Regions from separate parts of the Homo sapiens genome. Here region 2 is linked to region 1. Evidence: fine-mapped expression QTL. A gene starts in region 1. The other region holds a variant in brackets. All regions are shown on one strand. Distances are between the middles of the regions.

Region 1 (8,323 bases):
ATGATCCTTCATTAAGGGTGGGCCGGTTATTTGCCTGTCGTCTCAGACTACATTTGTCTGTCGTCTCAGACTACATTTACTAGACAGTCTGGCCAATGGGCTTCCTACCTTATGTAGGAAGAGCATACAGGAGATGGAAAGGCAGAGATAAACTTTTTTTTTTTTTTTCGAAATAGAGTTTTGCTCTTGTTGCCCAGGCTGGAGTGCAATGGCATGATCTCGGCTCACCACAATCTCCGCCTCCCGTGTTCAAGCGATTCTCCTGCCTCAGCCTCCCGAGTAGCTGGGATTACAGGCATGTGCCACCATGCCCGGCTAGTTTTGTATTTTTAGTAGAGACGGGGTTTCTCCATGTTGGTCAGGCTGGTCTCGAACTCCCGACCTCAGGTGATCCACCCGCCTTGGCCTCCCAAAGTGCTGGGATTACAGGCGTGAGCCACCGCCCCAGGCTGAGATAAACCATTTTCTCCCCCTGCTTCTTGTATTTCTGGCAGTGGCACCAGGCAACCCGGACTCTGGCAGCACTAGTGGCCATTTCATCAGCATCAATAATGCTTCCAGGAGCTCAGCAGCAAAGGATGGCTCTGGGGCTTGTGCCAGAGGTGTAGCAGCTTTCTGATCTTTTTGTAACACCCTCTTCCCTTGCCCCTCAAGCCCTCCCAAACCTTTCAATCCCTGCATTCAATACCTTTGAAATGTCCAGTGCTGTAATTTCTGTTTTCCAAACTGGACACTCACAACAACGAAGTCCCCAGGGTCCACCCCAACCAGTGACCATTCCTGAGCTGATGCCTCCCCATTTTTTGTCTTGGGCAAGTCTCTTTCCCAAATTTTAATTACCCCTTCTGTGAAATGACATGCCTCTCATGTCCCTCTAGGCTATGTGCTATCAGTTTGAGCCTCAGTCTTTCCATCTATCAAATGGAATTGGGGCCGGATGCAGTGGCTCATGCCTGTAATCCCAGCACTTTGGGAGACTGAGGTGGGTGGATCATCTGAGGTCAGGAGTTTGAGACCAGCCTGGCCAACATGGTGAAACCCCAGCTCTACTAAAAATACAAAAATTAGCCGATGATGGTGGTGGGCGCCTGTAATCCCAGCTACTTGAGAGGCTGAGTCAGGAGAATCACTTGTACCTGGGAGGTAGAGGTTGCAGTGAGCTGACATCGCACCATTGCACTCCTGACTGGGCGACGGAGCGAGACTCCGACTGAAAAACAAACAAACAACAACAAAAACAAACAGACTTGGGATGCCCCATGTGAGATGATGTATTTATTTGATCGTGGAAGCTGAAAATGGCTGTTTGGGGTTTGGGGCCAGTGGTTCTCCCTGTCCAGGCCCCCCAAGCTCACCTTAGGGTAGTAGAGATGGCAGACCTCGCCCAAGTCCTTGCCTGTCACCACGCCCAGACGTGCAGCCAGTCGCTGGCAGAGCAAGCCCAACACGGTGGCCCAGAGCAGCACCCAGAGAAGCTGTGAGGAGGCAGGGAGAGGCCTTCAGCCAGAGAGGCCAGCCTCAGAAAGCCCCTGAGCTCGTGGTACCCTCTAACCAAGCATACTCCTCGGGGAGGGGGTGGGAGAGATGGAGTCCCATCCTGGCTGGGCGCTGGTAGCTCACCCTGTAATCCCAGCACTTTAAAAGGCTAAGGTGGGAGGATTGCTTGAGTCCAGGAGTTCAAGAGCAGCCTGAGCAACATAGTGAGACCCCCATCTCTAAATAAATAAATAAATTACGCCAGGCAAGGTGGCTCACACCTGTTATCCCAGCACTTTGGGAGGCCGAGGCGGTGGATCACTTGAGGTCAGGAGTTCAAGACCAGCCTGGCCCACACAGTGAAACCCCATCTCTACTAAAAATACAAAAATTAGCCAGGCGTGGTGGCATGCACTACTCAGGAGGCTGAGGCAGGAGAATCACTTGAACCCGGGAGGCAGAGGTTGCAGTGAGCCGAGATTGTGCCACTGCACTCCAGCCTGGGTGACCGAGTGAGACTGAGTCTCAAAAAATAAAATTAAATAAATAAATAAATAAATATACATATATATATTTTAAAGAGAGGAGTCCAGTCCCCTACCCCCCACACAAATGCCCCACCTTCTGGCAGGGCTGCCCTGGGGACCCTTTTCGGGCCCATTTGAACTTAACACCAGCTCCCAGGCCACATTGGAGAAACATGGCCAGCAGGGGCCTTCAACACTTAGCCTGGTCACCTCCCTCTCGAAAGTGTCCCCACTCAGGTCCCGACTTAGTTACTTTGAATCCCGCCACGGCGCCAGCCTGAAGATCTGACTCGATGTTTCCTGGGTCCAGGAAAGCAATGCTCATGAGGAAGCCAGGCCCCGTGAAGGCCCATAGCTTCCGCAGGCTGAAGGTGCCCTGTTGGGGGGTGGGAGGAGTAGAGTGAGGGGGTCCTGGGTATAGGGATGGTGGCAGCTGGCCTTGGCCATCCCCTAGAGGAGCCCCAACAGGCTCATCAGCCCAGCCCTGCCCTCCATGGCCCATTCCTGGGTCTGCCACCCAAGGGATGGGGAGGGCATGGGTGGAGGAAGCAGCATGCTCTGATGAGTCACAGAGGATCTTTTTCTGGATCTGTTAAGCTCAGCAGCCGGCTTGCACCTGAACTGCCTGCCCCTCAAGCCCTGACTTGTCAGGTCCTCAGAGACCTCACAGGGGGCTGTCTAAGGGGGTGAGGGGGCCAAGCTTCCCTAGCCCAGCTCCTCCCTTGCCAGCTCCTTTTCAGACCACGGGGCCTCCTCTCTGTGGTCCGCTGAGGCTATGGTCCCCCCACCCTGTTCCAGAGCATGGCATATTGACTTAGAAATCTGCTGAAGATATTGGAGGCTGGGAGCGTTGGCTCGTGTCTGTAATCCCAGCACTTTGGAAGGCCGAGGTGGGTGGATCACTTGAGCTAAGGAGTTTGAGACCAGCCTGGCCAACATGGTGAAACCCTGTCTCTAGTAAAAATACAAAAATTAGCCTGGCATGGTGGTGCATGCCTGTAATCCCAGCTACTCGGGAGGCCGGGGCAGGAGAATCGCTTAAACTTGGGAAGCGGAGGTTGCAGTGAGCTGAGATCGCGCCACTGCACTCCAGCCTGGGCTACAGAGCGAGACTCCATCTCCAAAAAAAGAGAAGATACTGGAAATGCAGGTGACAGCATCCTAGATGCTAGATGCCAGCCTGCAGCCTCCTTCACTTCTCCCTATGCCCTTTCCTAAATGCTATAACATGTCCTCAAGGCTCCAATCCCAATTCCCCCTGGGCCTCTTTTCCTTCATAGGAAAGCTGAGATTCATTGAGAAAGTCATTTAATCGCTTTTAGACAAATACTGAAGCACCCCAGCTAAGCACTGGGGACGGAAGCAGGAAGGGGCAGTTGCCACTGTCCACCACTGCTGCTCAGACCTGGAAGGGACTTGCCACCCATGATCATAAGGAGACCCCATTCTCCAGCCCATGGGATCCTTCAGGATCCTGTCAATCTTGCAAGCCCCCAGGAAGTTTCCAGCATCCCACCGGTTTTGTGTCTGGGATGGGGATCTTCTCACTCAGGTAGGTCTCTCTGGGAGGTGCTTGCTGTGGCCCTGGGCTGGTCGGGCTGGTCGGGCTGGAGATGGAACCATAGCTGGACCCGCTTAGCCTTTGGGGACCCTTGTCACCTGTGGGGGCCCATGAAGCATGGTGAGTGTCCTGCCTCTTTCTGGTGGCCCAGAGTTAAAGCCGCCTGATCCTTTCCCTCCTCCTCCCGGAAAAGTGGAGAAACTAAGGTCCCTGGCCCCCATCTTGGGTCCATCACCTCCACCTCTCAAACAAACATTCCAGATGTGTGGGACATGGCAGCTTCAGAATTACTGTCCTCTCATGTGAGGACAGATGCCCAGAGGCAGATCTCCTGCCACAGAGAATGCAGAGAGACCCTAGGCTCTAAGAAGGGCAAGCTGAGGCCACATGTCTGCCCCTTGGCTGGACCCCTCACCTTCTCCGGCAGCCCAGAAAGCTCCAGGGGCTTTGATCCACGGACTTCAGACAAAGGAAAGGTAGACCGCTTAGGGGTGTGAAGGACTCCACCCAGTGAGATTGAGTCTGGTGTCCAGAACTGTGTTCTAGACTAGGACTCCCACGGGGGACCAGAGGCTTCCACAGGGGACCAAGGGCTTTCTTGCTTCCTCAAGTCTCCACCAGCCTAGTGATCTCCTCCACTCCACCCCCCAATCAGGCTCTGTCCCTAGGGGCCACTACTCACCTGTCATTGAAATGCCGACTTCAGGTACTCTGGGAGTGTGAGCGGTGCTCTGGGCAGCTCCTCAGCCTGCACCCCCTCTCTGGGCACTGGTGCAAGTAAGTGTGCCAGCCCACGCCCTGTTACCCATCCGCAGCCGAGTGCCCTGCCTCTTACATCAACATTCGGTTCACATCGGCCGATTCACACACACACACAACATGGGGCGTTGTGAAACATTTTCCAAAGGCAGAAGTGGCCAGCCCTGGCGGAAGGGTCTGGTTACCCATGGAGTGGACCTTTGTTCCCCTCCCAGCCTGCCCTGTGCCCCACAACACATCTGTTCCCCTTCCAGGCACCCCGTGTTCTGTGCCTCCCAAGTTAGCTCTGATTTCAGATGCTTCCTGCCCCTTGCGTATTCATGTCAATACCCCATGACCACACCCCCCTCTGCCACACACACACACACACACGTACACACACACGTACACACACACAGAGTCAGGTCTTTCTTATTCTCTTTGATCTGGAGTTCCAAGACCCCTCGTTGGCCTAATGCGAGTCTTCATGTCCTCAAAGGCTTCAGTTTCCCTTTGAGGGCCACAGAGGAAGGCACTGCAGAAGGGACATGCATTGAAGATTCAGACCCAGGACGTCCCCAGAAGATGGGGCACTGGGATCTGGTCCTGGTTCAACCACTGATTCACTTGAGATTGTCACCAGATCATGTCCCTTCTCAGAGTTGTTTATTCTATTCCACCCCCACCCTTTTTTTTTTTGGTTTTTCGTTTTTTGTTTTTTTTTTTAGAGACAAGGTCTCGCTCTGTCACCCAGGCTAGAGTGAGGTGTGAAGTGCAGTGGTGCCATCTTAGTTTACTGCAGCCTCAAACTCCTTTTTTTTTTTTTTTTGAGACAGAGTCTTACTCTGTTGCCCAGACTGGAGTGCAGTGGCATAATCTCAGCTCACTGCAACCTCTGTCCTCCATGTTTAAGCAATTCTCCTGCCTCAGCCTCCTGAGTAGCTGGGACTACAGGCATGCACCACCACACCCGGCTACTTTTTGTATGTATGTATGTATGTATGTATTTATTTACTTTGAGATGGCGTCTTGCTCTGTCACCCAGGCTGAAGTGCAATGGCGCGACCTTGGCTCACCGAAACCTCTGCCTCTTGGGTTCAAGTAATTCTTCTTCCTCAGCCTCCTGAGTAGCTGGGATTACAGGCACCTGCCAACCACACCTGGCTAATTTTTGTATTTTTAGTAGAGATGGGATTTCACCATGTTGGCCAGGCTGGTCTCAAACTCCTGACCTTGTGATCCGCCCGCCTCAGTCTCCCAAAGTGCTGGGATTACAGGTGTGAGCCACTGTGCCCAGCCAATTTTTGTATTTTTTTTAGTAGAGACGGGGTTTCACTATGTTGGCCAGGCTGGTCTCGAACTCCTGGTCTCAAGTGATCCACCCACCTCAACCTCCCAAAGTGCTGGGATTACAGGTGTGAGCCACCATGCCTGGCATATAGCCTTAAACTCTTGAGCTCAAGAGAGCCTCCCTTCTCAGCCTCTCGGGTAGCTGGGAATACAGACCTATGCCACCATGCTTGACTGTTTCTTCTATTAACTGAGGGGCTCACAGGAGTTTGAGACCAGCCTGGGCAACATAGTGAGATCTCATCTCTACAAAAAATTTAAAAATTAGCTGGGCATGACCGGGTGTGGTGGCTCATGCCTGTAATCCCAGCACTTTGGGAGGCTGAGGAGGGTGGATCACGAGGTCAGGAGATCGAGACCATCCTGGTTAACATGGTGAAACCCTGTCTCTACTAAAAATACAAAAAAAAACCCAATAAACAAACAAACAAACAAAAAACAATTAGCCGGGCGTGGTGGCGGGCTCCTGTAGTCCCAGCTACTCAGGAGGCTGAGGCAGGAGAATGGTGTGAACCCGGGAGGTGGAGCTTGCAGAGAGCCGAGATCGCGCCACTGCACTCCAGCCTGGGTGACAGAGCGAGACTCCGTCTCAAAAAAAAAAAATTTGCTGGGAGTGATGGCCCACACCTGTAGTCTCCATTACTTGGGGCAGGGCTGAGGTGGGAGGTTTGCTTGAGCCCAGGAGGTTGGGGCTGGCATGATCAGTGAGCCGTGATCATGCCCCTGCACTTCAGCTTTGGTGACAGAGTGAGACTGAGTGAAAAAAAAAAAAAAAGAAAGACTCAAACTGGCTAAGAGGTCAAAAATGTAGCTGCCCAAGGATGGCAAGCAGGTAAGATAAACTATGAGAGAGGTTGGGAGTAAGAAAAACTGCATGGGAAGGGAGAAAAAAATGAAAGAAAGAAAAAGAGGCCGGGTGTGGTGGCTCACGCTGTCATCCCAGAACTTTGGGAGGCCGAGGCGGGCAGATCACTTGAGGTCAGGAGTTCGAGACCAGCCTGGACAACATAGTGAAACCCCGTCTCTACTAAAAATACAAAAAATTAACTGGGCGTGGTGGCACATGCCTGTAATCTCAGCTACTCTGGAGGCTGAGGCAGGAGAATTGCTGGAACCCAGGAAGCAGAGGTTTCAGTGAGCTGAGATCAAGCCACTGCACTCCAGCCTGGGAGACAGAGCAAGACTCTGTCTCACCCCCCACCACAAAAAACAACAACAAAAACAAACAAACAAACAAAAAAAACAAGAAAATACTATGAAATCCAGCTTGACTCATGCCCACTGGAGTGAGTGGTGGCTCACTCCTGTTAATCCTAGCACTTTGGGAGGCTGAGGTGGGAGGATTGTTTGAGTCCAGGAGTTTGAGACCAGCGTGGGCAACATAGTGAAACCTTGTCTCTACAAAAAATAAAATTAGCCGGGCATGGTGGTACTCACCTGCAGTCCCACTCAAGTGATCCACCCACCTCAACCTCCCAAAGTGCTGGGATTACAGGCATGAACCACTGCACCTGGCTGATTTTTTATTTTACTTTTTCTTTCTAAATTTTTTAGAGACAGGTCTCACTATGTTGCCCAGGCTGGTCTTGAACTCCTGGCCTCTGGTGATCTTCCCATCTCAGCCTCTCAAATTGCCAGGATACAGAGTCACGAGGATTACAGGCCCCCAGGCTTGGCCAATGGCCAATGATTTAATCACTCATGCCTACATAATGGAACCTCCATGTAAATCCTAAATTGTGGGTTTCAGGGAGCTTCCGGGTTGGTGAACACGTTGAGATTCGGGGAGGGTGGCATGTCTGGAAAGGGCAGAAAAGCTCTGGGCACTCCCTCCATCCCTTGTCCATTAGGCTGTTCTTGGGTGTATCCTTAATAATAAACCAGAAAGAGCAAAGTGTTTCTTTGAGTTCTATGAGCTACAAGTTACCAAACCTGAGGGTCATAGGGACCTCCTGTTTGTAGCTAAATTGGAGAGGAGAGTGGGTAATCTGGGAACCCACTACCTGCAACTGGCACCTGAAGTGGGGGCAGTCTTGTGGGACTGAGCTCTTCACCTGTGGGGCCTGTGCTGGCTCCAGGTAGTTCATGTCAGAATTGAGTTAATTGTAGGAAACCCAGTTGTTGTCCACAGAGAATTGGATAATTTTGCTGGTGTGGAAAATTCACACATTTGGTGTTAGAACTGTTGAGAGTAGAGAAAGAGAGTTTTTCCTTCTAGAGAGGTTTACAGGCCCAGAATTGACCTGGGTTATAATTTATCCCCATGTTGAGTCAAAAACTATTTTTTTTTTGAGACAGAGTCTCACTCTGTCACCCAGTCTAGAGTGCAGTACCGTAGCCTTGAACTCCCATGCTCAGCCTCCCGAGTAGCTGGGACTACAGGTGCATGCCACCAAGACTGGCTAATTTTTGTATTTTTTGTAGAGGCAGGGTTTTGCCATGTTGCCTACGCTGGTCTCGAACTCCTGGGCTGAAGTGATCCGCCTGCCTCAGCCTCCCAAAGTGCTGGGATTACAGGCTTGAGCCACCGTGCCTGACCCCGTCAAAAACTTAGATGAAGTTTGGGAGGCTAGGGTGGGAGAGGCAGCCAATTTTCTGGCTCCTCATTGATGGACGAGGCTGGAGGAACTAGAGAGGTGTGGGAAGAGGGATGAATGATGGGTCCAGAGAG
Region 2 (8,323 bases), 39 kb after region 1:
CTTTGGGAAACATTGAGATAAGCAAATCGTAAACCCTGAACAAATGCCCATGGGCCTTGGGAAGAACATATTTTAGGCATCATTTCTCTCTCTCTTTTTAAAAAAATTTTTTTTTTTTTTGAGACAGAGTCTCATTCTGTCGCCCAGGCTGGAGTGCAGTGGTGCGATCTCGGCTCACTGCAACCTCCGCCTCCTGGGTTCACGTGATTCTCCTGCCTCAGCCTCCTGAGTAGCTGGGATTATAGGCTCCTGCCACTATGTCTGGCTAATTTTTTGTATTTGTAGTACAGATGAGGTTTCACTATGTTGGCCAGACTGGTCTCGAACTCCTGACCTTGTGATCCACCCGCCTCAGCCTCCTAAAGAGCTGGGATTATAGGTGTGAGCCACTGCGCCCAGCCTTTGGGCATCATTTCTGATCAAAACTCTTGAAGTGCCTAACTGCAAGTTAGCAGGCCTGGAACTGAGATGGGAAAACTGTGAGAAAGTTCTCTGCTGTTTTCACTCATGTAGCAACAAAGACAAGCTGTTGGGTGATCAAGTCTTGATTAAATCATTCATTCATTCAACATTTATTGAGCGCCTACTGTGTGCTAGGCACCGTGCTAGGCGCAGAAATACAGAGATGCATAAGATACAGTCCATGCCCTTAAGGATTCACAGTCTAGAAGGGGAGACAAACATGTAAACAAGTAAAATACAGTGTGATAAGTGCCACAAGAGAAGCATTGACAAAGTGCAGAGGTAGCCTGGAGGGGAGGGGCACAGGGGTTGCCTTCCTGGAGGAGGGGGCCTTTGAGGGGATCGTGAGAGATGAACTTGCCAGGCAGACAAGGCAGGAGGAGCAGGGGAAGGCATTCCAGTCGGAAGAAACAGCATGAGCGAAGGCACAGAGGCATGAAACTGCATGTCTTGCTTGGTGAGTGGGGAACTCTAACTAGTCTGGTGGTATTGCTAAAGTGTACTAGAGGCTGTGGCTAGAGAAGGGGGCAGAGGCCAGATCATGAGGGGAAACTGAGGGCAGGGGCATCTTGGAGGGTCACCAGAGGTGAGCAGAGCCCGAGGGCAGGCTTTGACACAGGAAAAGAGGGCTCCTGGCTGACTCAAGGTACACCTGCCTGAGGACCACAGGGTTCCTCGCTGTGGCTCCAAAGGGATCTCGACCCAAGAGTAGAGGAGCAGCAGAGCTGGAGGTGAAGCAGAGGGGTCGGGCCAGGTCTGGGACCCAGAGCTGCCATGCACTCCCGCGCTCTCACAGACTTCTGATTTCCAACCTGCACGTCAGAGCCCCCTCCTGCCAGCCGGATGGGGGCCTGGATCCAGTGGGAAATCACATGGGAATATGGCTGGCAAACTGCAAAGGGCCAGATGAGTGTCAGGTTACAGAATAAATCTTTACTAACTCAAAGAAGAAAAGGGCTGCGGATAAAACAGGAAAGGTTAGATGGAGGAAGGCGGGCAGACGGGCCTAAGAACAAGGGCCAAAATGAGAATACAGCATCGGCCAAAGAGGACCGTGGCTGTCTCTCCCCTGGCAAGGAGGGGCCCTTTTGGCCCAGGGCAGAGGCAGAGGCCAGTGGGTACAACCAGGCCAGATGTGCAAGGAGAGCATGTGACCTGCAAGACTGTGGGGCTCCACACTCCAGACTCCAGTGTCTCCTTAGCCCAATGAGGAGGTTTCCTTGGCAATCAGGACCCTCCTTCTTCCAGGCTGTAGGGAGGCCACTGAGGCAGAGAGTGGCCAGCCAGCATTCCAGCCCTTCAGTGTTCTTAGGAATGGCTCTGTCTGAAAAATGGCTTTGCAGGGATGGGTGGGGCAGGGAGGCTGTGGGAAGAGGGCAGAGTCTCAGGACACCAGAGTCCAGCTGCCCATCTGAGTGGTGCTTTTGTAAGGCATCACACTTGAGGCCACTGTGAGGGGCTGAGCTTCTTTCCCAACCATGGATGGGGGAAGGGCAAGATGGACCCTGGGTTCCAGGGCTACAGTGAGATGAGGCCTCCTGACGGAGAAGCTAACAGCAGCCCCCATGTCCTTGCTGCCGTCCCAGGAGTAGGGAAGGAGGAGGGGACCCTCCCAGTTGGTAGGGTCTGGAGATGTCCCGAGACCCCTCCTTTCCTCTTGCCGTTGATGAGGCAGCCTCGCGCTGCGGGGTTCCCAGCCTCCAACAGGCCCCCTTCTTTTGGCCTCACAGTCTCATCGCCTGATCCCTCCCCTCCCCTGAGCAGTGTGGGGGGATGATGCCCGCTTGGGTGCCGATGGAGGTGGTGGTGTTAGCGATGAGAAGGATGATGAGGTGTTGGTGGTGGCGGCCTCCCCATGCGGGGAGTGGGCTGGGCTGGGGGCGCTGGGGGCATCACTTGCTCTTGTGCATATCCTTCAGCCGGCGGAGCTCTTCCAGGAGCTGGGCCCGGGAGTAGTCATCATCCCCAGTGGGGCCCGGCCCCGGCCCCAGAGCCTCCTGTAGCGCCAGGCAGTGGGTTCTCAGGAACGGGTTGTAGGAGCGCTCCTCTCCCAGGGTAGATGGGCACTGTGGGTGAGAGGAACCAGGTTTGGTGGAGAGAAGCTGGGAAATGGACCCAAGACAGAGAAGCCTGACCCGACCCCTGCCCCATCCTGGAGTTCAGGAGTTCTGACTTGAGGGCCCATGGGCCAAAGAGGTCAGAGTTTTGGGGAGGTGCTCGCAGGCCTGGGGTCAGCATGGATGGGTTCCCGTTGGGGCTGAGTGCCTGCCCACACAGCTCCTCCTGGACCCCGAGTCCCTCACCGTGCCCTTGCGCTCCAGCCGCTGCCGCTGCACCCACTGCATCTTCCTCTCCCGGGCCAGGTTCTCGGGCTCCACCACACCTGCAAAGCCCAGGTTCTCCTCTGCATACTCATGACCTACCGACAGCCATGAGGGTGAGACACAGAGCAGAGAGAGATTGGTGGTACAGTCAGAACAGTCTTCCCTGCCCCAGGTCCAGGCTGATGGGCACCTGACAACTAGGGATGAGGTCAGCACTTCCAGGAAAACCCCAACTGCCAGGAGCTGCTTCTCTAACTGTGGGCACAAGTCAGCCATGGGTGAAAAGGTGGCAATAGTTCCAGGGGAAAAAACCACTAGACCTGGAGCTGGCAGGCCTGCATCTAGCCCTGACTCCACCAAGCCTAGCATGTGACCTCGGTCTAGTCATGGCCCCTCTCTGAGGCACAATTTTCTCATTTGGCAAGTGGAGAGAACAATGATGCCACCAGACACAGATGTACCTGCTGTGTTCCTGGTGCCTGGAACAGAGCCTGGTATGTGTTAGGTGCACATAAAGTACTTGATGAATGAATGAATGAATGAATATATGTTCTGAGGATTAACAGATATCTGTGAATGTTTTTATGCACCACAAGGCAATGGTTACATGCAGAGTGGATTTACTGACTTCTCCCCAGATAAGCAAAGGCTATTTTCTGTTCTGGGCTAAGGCTATGAACAATTAGACATCTCTCTGGAATGCCCTGGGGCCTGCAAGGCTCCCAAGAGGCTGAAGGCTGACTGGCAGGGGAAGGTAGTGTGAGAAGCAGAGGTGGTACGGAGCCAGCACTCCAGGAAGAAGGGAGGCCAGAACTCTGTCCCTACCCCTAGAGGTGGAGCTGTGTCGCTTCTGGGCCAGGAACTGGGCTGGCCTGCTTTCTAGGGGAGTGAGGGGGTGGGAAGGCCCTTGTCCCAGGCTGAGCGTGGGGCTGGAGGATGGGGAGTAGTAAGGGGGTGTCTCACCAGGCCACAGAAGGGTGTCATCCCCTAGCCCCAGCACAGTGTCCAGTGAGCTCAGCATGGTCTCTGCATTGCCCTCAAAGGTCCGCCCTGGGTGGGGGTTGGAGGGTATGTCACAAGGTGCCAGGATAACACAATATGGCATAAGGCACACCCAGACAGGTGGGAACCAGCTTGTAATGCTCTGGCTGGCCGTCAGCCCTGACTGTGCACTTTCCAGACCCACCCCAGGCATCTATTCCCTCCTCACTGGGAACTGGGCCCAACTGGTCACCCCCTGACCAAGCCCATCCGAGGCCTCCGTTGCACACAGTGACACCTGAAGGGAGGGGCTGTGGAATCTTCGGGCTGCAGGCCCCAGGCTTGGTAGACGCAGGGCTGCTCTTTCCCACGGAACACTTCTTCGCCTAGGCTGCCCTTTGGGATTTCATG[C/T]AGCCTGGGACTTGTGATCCTCACCCACCCACTCACCTAGCTGTTCTTAACTTTTCATAACCTAGTCCTGCCAGTCACTGTATCAGAGAACCAGTCTCCACCCAGGGGAAACTAATTCCCTGCAGGGCTTTACTCAGCTACAGACATTCTCCCATTCTGTCCCGCAGCTGGCAGAAGTCTTTTTTATTTTTGAGACAGAGTCTCATTGTTGCCCAGGCTGCAGTGCAGTGGCACAATCATAGCTCACTGCAACCTTGAATTCCTGGGCTCACCACCACACTGGCTAATTTTTGTATTTTTTGTAGAGACGGGGTTTCACCATGTTGCCCAAGCTGGTCTTGAACTCCTGGGCTCAAGCAATCCACTTGCTTTGGCCTCCCAGAGTTCTGGGATTACAGGCCTGAGTCACTGCTCCTGGCCTATATTATTTATATTATTTAAATTTTTTTTTCTGTTTTGTGACAGAGTCTCACTCTGTCTTCCAGGTTGGAGTGCAGTGGCGCGATCTCAGCTCGCTGCAACCTCTACCTCTCGGGTTCAAGCAGTTCTCCTGTCTCAGCCTCCCTAGTAGCTGGGATTACAGGCATGCACCACCATGCCCGGCTAATTTCTGTATTTTTAGTAGAGACGGGGTTTCACCATGTTGACCAGGCTGGTCTTGAACTCCTGACCTCAGGTGATCCTCCCACCTCAGCCTCCCAAAGTGCTGGGATTACAGGCATGAGCCACCACGCCTGGCCTATTTTAAAATTTTTTTGTAGAGACAGTCTTGCTATTTTGCCCAGTCTGGTCTCCAACTCCTAGCCTCAAGTGATCCTCCTGCCTCAGCCTCCCAAGGTGCCCCAAGGGAAGTCTCAAGGATTAAAACCAATCTGAGTAACACAGATGGAAGTAACTGCCACGGCAACATCTGTGCTAAAACTAAGGCTTCAGTGCTCTCCATGGGACTGTGGCTGCCCTGGCTTCTGTCTCTCCCTCCTCTCCCAGCTCCTCTCTCTTTCGGGGAAACTCACCACAGCCAGAGAGGAAGAGCAGGTCCCCTGAGAAGAGGCAGGAGGGACCCTTGTAGGGCTCCCCATCCAGTAGGTAGACCAGATGGCCTTGTGTGTGGCCAGGTGTAGCCAGGGCCCGGATCTGAAGCCGTCCCACGCTGACCACATCTTGATGACACAGGGGACTGGGGAACAAGGGAGCAGGGGACAGAAGGTATTGGATCTGTGCCATGCTGATCCCTGTCCCCATCCCAGGCCCAAGGGGCTGGGTGATTCACAAGAGAGTGGGCTTCCATACAAAAGAAGTCACCCCAGTGCCTCGGGTCTCAGGTCCGAACCCTCCCCCTTTCCTCTTTTGGGGACTATGGCTGGATCAGTTGGGGGATGGGCAGTGCCAGTCTTCAGATAGGCTGGGATTGGGCCAGGAAGGGCACTGGCAAAGATCCACCTGCTGATACCCCTGAAACACTTCACTGAAGGCTGGGGGTGGGGGAAAGGGCCCATGGAAGGGCCATCCCTTGCCTAGGTCAGGGACTTACTGGGTGAGGTAGGGGATGCCGTCCTGAGGGCTCCCGTACACCCGACAGTCCCGGTGCCGCCGGCTGAGGTCACGGTTCCCTCCACTGTGGTCCCTGCAGGACAGCAGAGACAGGCAGGGGGCTTCGAGGGGCAACTGTACCTAAGCCCCCTTCTTTACCACAGCATCTCCAGGCCTTTAAGTGCTGGGGCTGTGGCTTCTGGACTAAGCCAAGTTGTCCACACCTCTAGGCCTTTGTTCAAGCTGTTCCCTTGCCCAGAACATCGCCCCCAACAACTCAAGCTGGCCAATGCCAGCCGAGCTTCCTGAACCCTCAGCTCAGGTCATCATCTTTCAATTCTCCAAGTGGATCTGATCACACCGTGCCTGGGCCTCCCATCCCTGTTCCCTGTGCCAACTGTTACCTAAATATCACATACTTCTTTTTTGAAGACAAGGTCTCACTATGTTGCCCAGGTTGGGCTTGAACTCCCAACCCTCTTGCCTCCGCTGTTATATACTTTGATACAGGGCTACCTCCCCTATTGGTCTTAGAATTTCCTTGATGGAAGAGTCATAACTTTTGTCCATGCCCAGTGTGCAGTAGGTATCTAATACATGCCCATGAAATGAAAGAGAAATGACTGCCCTGCCCTCTGGGGCTTCAGAAGCTTGATCAATGGAGTGGTGGGAGACTGTCCCCTCTCCTCCCTCCCTGCTGGTGTCCAGGTGACTTCACGAGGAAGGCGGGTGCCGGCCCGTACTGACTTCTTGATCTCTGGCCCCGGCCGTCCTCAATGGGCCCAGTCCTGGCAAGCCCAGCTGGGACAAGGGTGGGCCAGGGAAGACGGGAGCCCCTTACCAGTGCTTGTGAGTACACAGAATGGCGACCAAGGTGACCCCTTCCTTTTCAATGGAAGCCTGCGAGAGAGAGGAGGTTTGGAGACTGGGGAGCAGGATGCAAGAGGCACTTGAAGCAGCAAGAGCCAGGAGTGTGGGCGCTGGTGGAGAGGAGAGGAGAGCATGGAGAGATGAAGCAGAGGAAAGGGATGGAGCTGGAGGGGAGAGATCCAGGAATGTGAAGCACGGGGCACATGGAGGCAGAGGGACACTTGTACATAGAGAGAGGCAGACACAGAGAGATAAGGAATGGGAGGGAAAGACAGAGAGACCCAGATACTGACAGACAGAGGTGACAGAAAGAAAGGGGGTCTGAAGGGGGCCAATGGGAGTGAAAGCCAGCCTGGAAACTCACTAGACCCAGAGTCCTGGGCCAACACCCCCAGCCCTCTGGCTCTGCATCCCCCACTCCTGCTCTCCCCTTCTGCCCAGCCATGCCCTGTACCCCCCTTCCCCAGGCTATGTGTGCGCATGTGCACGTGTGAACATGGAGCATATGGGACACATCCCACGGGCAGACGGACAAGGGTCAGCCCTCTCTAGCAAGGCGAAACTGCCAGTCCCCAAGGTGACTCCAGGCACCCCCTGCTCCCTGCCCTCCCCTCACCTGCACAGCCCGAGGGTCTGAAGGGTCCACAGCCACAGCCAGCTGGGCCTGGGTGTCGATGATGAGGTAGCTGTAGTTGTCCGAGAGGACAGGGATGGGAAGCACCTTCACTCCTGGGGACAGAGATGGGCTGTGGGCGGGGTAACAGGCAGGGAGCCCAGGGGCTGGGGTATGTGAAGGGGAGCAGGCGGGGAGGGTGGGGGCACAGAATGGGGGATGCTGGCCGGGGCAGTCAGAGCTCACCATTGAAGAGGCGGGGCTGGGTTTTCGAGTGGCCTTTAGGGTAGCGATTCCGAGCCCTGCGCAGCTGCTGTCGGTAGAAGAGGTACCCGAGCCAGGTGCGGGTGTACAGGCTGTACCTAGAGGGCGAGTGGGTGGCCTATGATTAGCCTTTTCTCCCTAGCTCCCCTAGACTCCTTCGTGATGCCTGCAGGCCCCACATCTCCATTCCTTTGGTGACCCTGTGAGCCAATGCAATTCCACTCTCACTTATTATGTGCCTACTGTTTGCCCTGCTTAGCACTCAGGACAAGATGGAGAATGAGACGGACACACCTAGAACTCAAAATCTATCAGGGAGACATGAACTGAGGAACTCACAGAAGAAAATTGGAGAGGCCAGGCGCAGTGGCTCACACCTGTAATCCCAGAACTTTGGGAGGCCGAGGTGGGCGGATCACCTGAGGTCAGGAGTTCGAGACCAGCCTGACTAACATGGCGAAACCCTGTCTCTACTAAAAATACAAAACTTAGTCGGGTGTGGTGGCACACGCTTGTAGTCCCAGCTACTCAGGAGGCTGAGGCAGGAGAATTGGGCATCGCACCACTGCACTGCAGCCCAGGCCAAAGAGTGAGACTCTGTCTAAAAAAAAAGAGAGACTTGGAGAGTGAGGGGTTTAATCTAGCCCAGGGTCTAGCACCTCTGATGAAGTGACATTTGCAGGGAAGAAGGAGTAGGAATTAGGAGGCTGAAATGAGGTAGAAAAAATATTTCAGAAAGAACAGTGGTGGTCAGACTTTAGCATGCATCCTAATCATCTGAAGAAGGTTGGGTACAGTGGCTCACACCTGTAATCCCAGCACCTTGGGAGGGAAGGAGAGAGGATCACTTGAGCCCAGGAGTTCGAGA

The links.
Region 2: its variant is fine-mapped to the expression of SLC11A1 in whole blood (TOPMed, PIP above 0.99).

The regions. Positions count from the first base shown.
Region 1 is chr2:218,378,299-218,386,621 of GRCh38, reverse strand. SLC11A1 (solute carrier family 11 member 1) reads right to left here and starts at 4,349. Exons shown (of 15, transcript NM_000578.4): 1 at 4,247-4,349; 2 at 3,520-3,662; 3 at 2,257-2,379; 4 at 1,356-1,475. The coding sequence starts at 4,253.
Region 2 is chr2:218,339,013-218,347,335 of GRCh38, reverse strand. PNKD (PNKD metallo-beta-lactamase domain containing) reads right to left here. Exons shown (of 10, transcript NM_015488.5): 3 at 7,438-7,553; 4 at 7,195-7,307; 5 at 6,550-6,608; 6 at 5,710-5,802; 7 at 5,192-5,355; 8 at 3,750-3,836; 9 at 2,766-2,881; 10 at 543-2,528. The coding sequence ends at 2,355. The region is part of intron 2 of CATIP-AS2 (CATIP antisense RNA 2); the gene reads left to right. MIR6810 (microRNA 6810) reads right to left here and starts at 5,425; the gene lies at 5,356-5,425. RefSeq lists an enhancer at 3,319-3,818. The variant C/T (reference allele first, on the strand shown) is at 4,179.